2 separate regions of the Homo sapiens genome follow, and region 1 is linked to region 2. Evidence: fine-mapped expression QTL. A gene starts in region 2. The other region holds a variant in brackets. All regions are shown on one strand. Distances are between the middles of the regions.

What was found. PIP is the estimated chance that this variant, and not a neighbour inherited with it, causes the effect.
Region 1: its variant is the best candidate, but not a certain one, in a credible set for the expression of PDE6B in caudate (GTEx, PIP 0.53).

Annotation. Positions count from the first base shown.
Region 1 is chr4:653,484-657,483 of GRCh38, forward strand. It overlaps PDE6B (phosphodiesterase 6B), which reads left to right. Exons shown (of 22, transcript NM_000283.4): 4 at 369-509; 5 at 597-671; 6 at 1,341-1,405; 7 at 2,457-2,523; 8 at 2,762-2,809; 9 at 3,391-3,540; 10 at 3,868-4,000. PDE6B-AS1 (PDE6B antisense RNA 1) reads right to left here and starts at 1,717. Exons shown (of 4, transcript NR_183811.1): 1 at 1,599-1,717; 2 at 582-730; 3 at 275-488; 4 at 1-200. The variant C/A (reference allele first, on the strand shown) is at 2,367.
Region 2 is chr4:623,036-627,452 of GRCh38, forward strand. PDE6B (phosphodiesterase 6B) reads left to right here and starts at 2,538. Exons shown (of 22, transcript NM_000283.4): 1 at 2,538-3,059. The coding sequence starts at 2,592. RefSeq lists enhancers at 234-1,224, 2,214-3,203, 3,204-4,192.

The sequences.
Region 1 (4,000 bases), 30 kb after region 2:
CGATGTTCTCAAAGCCCTGCTCGCCGCAGGTGGTTCTGGAGCAGCCGGGCGGAGGAAGGGCTGGTCGGATGTTTGCCTGTCAAGCTCAAAGCGACAGATTCCACTTTCCACTCGTCCACTCCTGAGTGATCAGGGACACGACCGCAGCCTCGAGGCCTCACCGCCAGCCAGCTCCCGGGCCCCACAAGCTCAGATGAAACCTGGCCACGGAGCCACCAATCAGGGTCTGTGCCAGGCTCCACGGCTGGGCAGGTGGTCAGATCAGGGAGCGCACCTGTGTCAGGCTTGAGTTAAACCCCTGCTGCTGTGGTCAGACCGGCGTGAGGGTGGGAGTGGCCACAGGCCCACAGGTGTGCCCCTCCCTCCAGGTGCTGCTGTGGTCGGCCAACAAGGTGTTTGAGGAGCTGACGGACATCGAGAGGCAGTTCCACAAGGCCTTCTACACGGTGCGGGCCTACCTCAACTGCGAGCGGTACTCCGTGGGCCTCCTGGACATGACCAAGGAGAAGGTGAGGCTTCCGTGGCTCAGGGACCCCCTGCCTGGCCCGACCCAGGTCCCGCAGTGACCGCCCCACCCTCACCTCTTCTCTGCCCAGGAATTTTTTGACGTGTGGTCTGTGCTGATGGGAGAGTCCCAGCCGTACTCGGGCCCACGCACGCCTGATGGCCGGGTGAGTCTTAGGGGAGGGGCCCAGGGCCTGTCCACACGCCTCTGTTTCCCTGACTCCAACTCCAGGGCAGGAGAGGGAGGGATAGGGGTGGGGTTTAGGGAGGTGGGAACTGGCCGGTGGGACCCCGGGTGCCTGTCTGTGGTCTCCACCAGGCTCCCCTGCTGCTGCACTCCAGGGATGGGGTGTCCAGGGCTGGTCCCTGAATGAGGGCCGCCAGGCTGGTCGTGAAGACCCACGTCGGCTCTGATTGTGGGGGCTCCTGCTGCCCCATCTCCCCACGTGGGACCTCCTGTGCACGTGTAGGATGCGTGTGTGTGTGTGTGTGTGAGAGTACGGGCCCAGCTTGTGTGTGGGATTGTGCGGAACACAGACTGGGAAGACAGATGTAAACCGCGGCGTGTGATGCGTGTCCCGTGAGTATTGGGGACGGTCTGCATGTGTGTGCACCCTGAGCCTGTGCATGTGTGGACATGGGTGTGAGTGCACCCGCATTCGTAGAATACCTGCGCACGGCGGAGACATCTGTTCACGTGTGTACACATGCACGGTTACGTGTGTGGGGGTGTGCATGCGTGTGGCTGTGTGTAGCTGCATGTAGCTGTGTGTGTGTGTGTGAGCCCCTCAGAGCTTGGCCAGGCAGCCCCCCGACCAGTGTCTTCTGCTTCTCAGGAAATTGTCTTCTACAAAGTGATCGACTACGTCCTCCACGGCAAGGAGGAGATCAAGGTCATTCCGTAAGTGCAGGATTTTACCAGAAGCGTCCCCGGGGGAGGGACCGCCCCTCAGACCCCGGCTCAGCCCCCAGGGCCGTCCTCCCAGGGCTTCCCACGGTGCAGTCAGCAGCACCGGCCTGGCCTGGCCCCACCTGTGGTGCTCTGTGTGCCGTGGGGCATAGTGGAGTTGGGGGTGAGACAGAAGCCGACTCACTGTTCTGGGAGATGGTGAGGAGGACGTGGGCTGCTGAGGAGCCCGAGTCACTGTGGACATCCAGAGTGGACATACAGGGGACCAGGCAAGCTGTCCAGGCGGCCTCGTCAGCAACAATTGAGCATGAAGGCCCCAGGATTTGACCCTGGCACCACCAGCCCCACCCAGACAGTGGAGCCTCCAGCCAGGAGGCCGAGTCTTGGCCCCGTGGGGCTGGAAGAGGAGGGGAACTCCAGTCCGGAGGTCAGGGCAGGACTCCAGCCAAGGGAGGGGCAGCTGGTGGCCCAGTGGCCCTGTGATCCCATAAGCCTATTGGGACCCCATCCCCAGGCCCCAAGCAGGAACCAGGATCCAGGTGCCAGGCTTGAGCACAAGTCAGGGTCAGGGTGGCAGGGCAGGCACCAACGCTGAGTCCTAGAAAGCAGGCTGAAGCCATACGGCCTCCGGAGAGGGAGGGGTTCCCAAGAGGGAGGGGCCCCAGCACGGCAGCCTGGGGAGGAGGAAGAAGGCAGCACAGCCGTCCTCCAACCCACGCCCTGGCCTCCTCGCCTCCTGAACCCCCTGGCACTCAGAGAAGAGAGTAAATGCTGAGGATGGCACATGAGCCAGAGACCCCCAGACCCCTGCACACACGCCCAGTCCATCTGACCCCAGTACACCTACATCCAGCGCAGCCTGGCCCCTCTGACCCCTGCACACACACGTGCAGCCCAGACCAGCCCCTCTGACCCCTGCACACACACGTGCAGCCTAGACCAGCCCCTCTCA[C/A]CCCTGCACACAGACATCCAGTCCCTCTGACTCCTGCACGCGCACATCCAGCCCGGCGTGGCCTATCTGACCCCTGCTCTCTGCCCACAGCACACCCTCAGCCGATCACTGGGCCCTGGCCAGCGGCCTTCCAAGCTACGTGGCAGAAAGCGGCTTTGTGAGTCCCGTGCTGTCTGGAGTCCCCACAGCCTTGCCCTCACTGGGTGCGGCGATGTGTGCTTCTCCTTGTCTCTGCCACGTCCCGCCCTCCCGGCCAGCTCCACGTGCCTCAGTGAAGCCCCCAGCTGCCCTGCTTTACCTACTTAAAAGCTCACCTCAGGGCCACAGAGGCCATTTTAGATCATAACAGACCTTCCGCTGTTTTGGATGAAATCGTTTTTCTGATGCTTTTTCAGATTTGTAACATCATGAATGCTTCCGCTGACGAAATGTTCAAATTTCAGGTATCTGTCTGTGCCTTGGTAGAAATTATACTTACTTACAAAAGAGGAGATTTTGATTCAGCGATGATGAAGTGAATTCGTTTTTGCCACTTAAAAAACAACTTCAGCCAGGCATGGTGGCTCACGCCTGTAATCCCAGCACTTTGGGAGGCTGAGGCGGGTGGATCACCTGGGGCTGTGACCACAGCCCCCACACACGCCCGCAAGGCCGTGACCGCGGCCCCCACACACCCCTGCGAGGCCGTGACCGCGGCCCCCACACACCCCTGCGAGGCCGTGACCGCGGCCCCCACACACCCCTGCGAGGCCGTGACCGCCGCCCCACACACATGCCCATGAAACCACTCCTGGTGGGAAAACGGCCTCTACCTCCTCCGGTGGGAAAATATCATGACACAAAAACCATGGACACAAACTCCAAATGCAGAGAGGGAGAGAGGGAATGCAGAGAGCAGAGACAGGAACACGAGCCCAGCCGTCACGGCTCTAGGGGAGAAGACATGAGGTCACTCTCCCCGGCCACACGCCCGGGCCAGGGCCAGCCTCAGGGCGGAGCTCAGCTCTGGACACCGCTCCCGCAGGAAGGGGCCCTGGACGACTCCGGGTGGCTCATCAAGAATGTGCTGTCCATGCCCATCGTCAACAAGAAGGAGGAGATTGTGGGAGTCGCCACATTTTACAACAGGAAAGACGGGAAGCCCTTTGACGAACAGGACGAGGTTCTCATGGAGGTAAGCACCTGGGCAGACGTGGTTCCGCCGGGGATGCCCTGCGAGGGGTGGGGCCTGTGCGGTGTGGGGGCCTCCCCGCCAAGCATTCGGCTGTGTGCGTGTGCTCATGTGTGTGCGGTATGCATGCGGCCAGGGAGAGGACGACAAAGGGCCCCCCCGGGAGCAGGAGCCTCTGCAGAGCACCCGGGAGACCCCACACAGAAGCACTGCGACACCATGGTGGCAGCCCCAGGACCTGCCCGCCGAGCCACGGGGCCTGGCACACAGGCACATGGGAGGGGGCGCGCCGGGAGCGCTGAGCGCCAGTGACACTGCCATCCCCTCCAGTCCCTGACACAGTTCCTGGGCTGGTCAGTGATGAACACCGACACCTACGACAAGATGAACAAGCTGGAGAACCGCAAGGACATCGCACAGGACATGGTCCTTTACCACGTGAAGTGCGACAGGGACGAGATCC
Region 2 (4,417 bases):
AGCCTTACAGGTGCGTCTCACAGCTGTGTCTCACAGGTGTGTCTCACAGGTGTGCCTCACAGGTGTGTCTTTTTGACTGTGTCAAGTCCAACCCAATCAGGGTCCCCCAGCATCATCAGTAGGTATGTAGGGAAGTGAGATGGGGAAAAGATAGAACCAATAGTGTGCCATGGAGCAGTTACCTCTGGGCCCCTGCAGGTAAGGGAGCTGCGGTGTTCACACACAACTCCCATGGTCATGGCTCAGGGTTCCCCAGAGGCTGTGGACTCCTTGCCGCCCTGAACCTACTCACCTACAATCACGACGGGCTCCTGGGGCAGGACAAAGCCACAGGTGAGGAACGCGGTGCTGCGGGTGGAAGCTGCTGTCACAGTCGTGTTAGGGTGAGTGGACTATGGCCGCAGACTGTGGGCTCCTCCCAGCCAACCCTCACTCCCGCTAGCGCCCCAAATCTTCAGTCCAGCACCCCTTCCCCGTCCCACCCACTCTCCACACTGAGCCCTCCCAGCCAACCCTCACTCCCGCTAGCACCACAAATCCTCAGCCCAGCACCCCTTCCCTGTCCCACCTGCTCTCCACACTGAGCCCAGCCACTCCACGCTCCCTTGGGCAGGTGGCAAGGCAGAGCCTGAGGTCAGCTGCCACCCCCAGCCCCACCCCAGGGCCCTCATGCCCCCAGCAAGGCCTCTCCAGCTCTGCGGTCCCACTCAAGATGCGCTTAGCTCATTTCACACGCAGGTGAGTGTCTCAGTTCTGCGGGCACGGAGGCCCCTGTGGGAGGGAGGTTGGCAGGCCCCTCGCTGACGGAGGGGAGCAAGGGGCAAAGTGGGGGTGTCCAGAAGGGGGTTGTGAGGAACTGGGGGACGGGAAAGAGCCCGGAGAGGAAAAAGGAGGTGGGGAGGGGCTGCGTGTGCATAGACCTCAGGGTGGGGCAACCGAGGACCTGAAGGCTGGTTTCCGGCCGCCATCCTCACATCCAGGCGCAATGTGAGCTCATCCCTGGGAGTTGGGAAATGCAACCGGCAGGCTCTGGAGGCTGTTCTGGGACTGAATGCAAAGCAGGCGACCCTCCCCCCGGCCCCAAACCCAAGCACTGCAGCGGCCCCACAACCCCTCCCCCCACCCACATCCCCACTCCCCCGTCCCCAGTGAGAATTCACTATTTTTAGGAAAAAGGGGAAGCCTCTCAGCAGATCCTTGAAAGGAAGTGACTTTGTGACTAAGTGGAGGCAGGAACATCATGGCACAAGGGCACACGTCGCACACCCAGCTGGGCCCACTGTGGACGGCGCAGATGCTGCCTCAGAGCAGCCTCCGAGACAGGCAGCTGCAGCGGTGCAGCCCAGGGCCCTCGCAGAAGCTTCCCCGGGGCCTGGCCTCGTGCTGAGAGAACTCTGCGCTCCTGAGGGCACCTGGCTGTCATGCACACGTGCTCACACGAACACACACACCTACACGTGCGCACACTCACACTCCGTGCACACACGTATGTGCACACTCATGCACGCGTGCACACACGTCTACCAGCTGAGTGCAGTAAAAGAACCACATGAAAACCTTGCATCCTGGTTAAAAGTATGGTGACAACATGGACAGATAAACTGGAAAAGATGGGAAGAAACCTTAAGCCCAGGATCTGGCAGCACAAAGGTGCCTGGAAAGCGACAATCAGCGTTTTTATATTCAGGGAAATCAGGAACACTGCCACCCGCCCGCCAGGCCGGCGCCCATGCCAGACCCAGCCAAGGTGCTTCTGGCCACATCACCCCTGCTGGCCTGCAGGGAGCTGGCCCAGGAGCCGAGAGGCCTATGGGAGCAGGCAAGGCTTGCTGAGGTGACAGCGGAGAGGAGAGGTCGGGCTTTGTTGCCAGGCAGCCCCCCAACATTCAGGTCCTTTTTCCACTGAAAGCCATGTGGCCTCAGAGCGGCGTCACCCCGAAGCTTGTCCCAGCCGGGGCCTGACAGCAGGTAAAGGCTGACTAGCAACTCTGCATCCCTCAGAGTGTGGGGGAAGGTGGATGTGGTCCCACCTCCACATCCAGGGTCCCCTTGCTGGCCTCTGGGCATTTGGGTCCTGGTGTGATTACCCAGCCCCCTCTCCCTGCACAGGGGTGAACTGCATCTCCTGGAGGCAGGGCCAGTGCCCCACCACCTCCCCAGCACACCCGAGCCCAGGTCTGGGCTCCCAGGAGGGCCTGGGGCCACCTGTGGGACCAACCCAAACCCTCAGGCAGCTCCACCAGCAGAAAGCGTCATGCTGTGTGTGGGATAACCTCCTCAGGGGATTAGTTCTCAGGGCCTGGTCCGCTAGAAGCCAAATGCCTGTGCCCAGCCACCCGTGACGCCTGCAACAGGCAGGAGATCCCCCAACAGTTACTCCCAGCCTTCATTCCACAGGGTCTGGTTTTCCTGGAAGGTGGGAAGTCCCAGGGTCTGAGGAGAGGGAGCGCAGGCCCCCATTTGTAGGAGTGAGTCAGCTGACCCGCCCCCGGGGTTCCTAATCTCACTAAGAAAGACTTTGCTGATGACAGGGTTTCCTGGGAGTCCATGCGTGCCTGGAGCAGCAGCGTCTCCAGGGACAGGCAGCCACCATGAGCCTCAGTGAGGAGCAGGCCCGGAGCTTTCTGGACCAGAACCCCGATTTTGCCCGCCAGTACTTTGGGAAGAAACTGAGCCCTGAGAATGTGGCCGCGGCCTGCGAGGACGGGTGCCCGCCGGACTGCGACAGCCTCCGGGACCTCTGCCAGGTGGAGGAGAGCACGGCGCTGCTGGAGCTGGTGCAGGATATGCAGGAGAGCATCAACATGGAGCGCGTGGTCTTCAAGGTCCTGCGGCGCCTCTGCACCCTCCTGCAGGCCGACCGCTGCAGCCTCTTCATGTACCGCCAGCGCAACGGCGTGGCCGAGCTGGCCACCAGGCTTTTCAGCGTGCAGCCGGACAGCGTCCTGGAGGACTGCCTGGTGCCCCCCGACTCCGAGATCGTCTTCCCACTGGACATCGGGGTCGTGGGCCACGTGGCTCAGACCAAAAAGATGGTGAACGTCGAGGACGTGGCCGAGGTGGGTCTGTGCGGAGCCTCAGGGAGGCGGCTGTGTGCATCTCTTGCACCTGTCCCAGGTGTCTAAGGGTCAGCTCGGATCCTCAGGCCTCCAGGGAGGCCTCTTGTCAGGGCACAGGCTAGTTCTGTGCTGAGGAGCAAGTACCTAGAGCCCCCTCCCGGCACTGTGCCCTGGCCGCCTGCCTCTCCGACTCGGCTTCTGGCTCAAGCTGACATCGCATGGCCACTGAGTTGGTTAGACCTGAGTCTAGGAGCCTCGGCTGAAGCAGACTCAGGCTCAAACCGGGGTGCCCCTGATTCTGCATCCACATCCCATGGTGGGGACCATGTAGTCCCTGTGAGGACCCCTGGCTTCCAGGAAGACTGACCAGATGGGGGCTTCAGGGCTCTCTGGGCTGGGAGGGAGGCCCTGCCTTGGGATTTGGGAAGAAGAGGTCACAGTCGAAGGTGGTGCAGACGCCCACAGGGAGGGAGAGCCAGGGGAACCCCAAACTTCCACTGTGGCAGAAGCAGCTTTATCCCATGGGAGCCCACGCCAGCCGCCAGGGGAGAACAAACCTGGTAGCCACTGAGCACAGGGGTCCAGGGTGGGACTGGGGAGGGACAAGAGACAGAATCGAGACAGGCTCACTGGAGTCACTGAAGGAGGGAAGGGCAGGGCCTGTTCATGCAAAGCCTGGGCTAGGGCAGACGCTTCCCGAGGACAGAGGCGGTCCTGGCGGGACTGGAGAACAAGAGGGGTGTGAGGTGCCTGCCAGACTGGGTGAGGGCAGCGGCCAGCAGAGACCTGGAAAGGCCCTGAGGAGCTGCCCGGCAAGGGGGCTCTGAGGAAGAAGGGGAGGGGGGAAGCCCCTTCTCCCTGTCCTGCACCCGTCCCAGCTTCCTCTCCCCTTTTCTGTCCCCACAGCTAAGGAGGCTGCAAGAGGCCCAGGCAGCCTCCGCTCTTGCTGGATGAGCCTTGGGAATTACCCACCAGGCTGCCAGCCCAGGGGCAGGTGTGGTCCCTCCTTCCCAGGCAGCTGGGGAGTGGCAATCCTGGTTTGTTTTCGTTTGTGGGTTTTTTTTTTTTTTGAGACAGAGTCTTGCTCTGTCACCAGGCTGGAGTACAGTGGCATGATGTCAGCTCACTGCAACCTCCGTCTCCCACGTTCAAGCGATTCTCCTGCCTTGGCCTCCTGAGTAGCTAGGACTAGAGGTGCCCGCCACCACACCCGGCTAATTTTTGTATTTTTAATAGAGACAGAGTTTCGTCATGTTGGTCAGGCTGTTCTCGAACTCCTGACCTCAGGTGATCAACCTGCCTCAGATTTCCAAAGTGCTGGGATAACAGGCGTGAGCCACCGCACCAGGCCGGAAGTG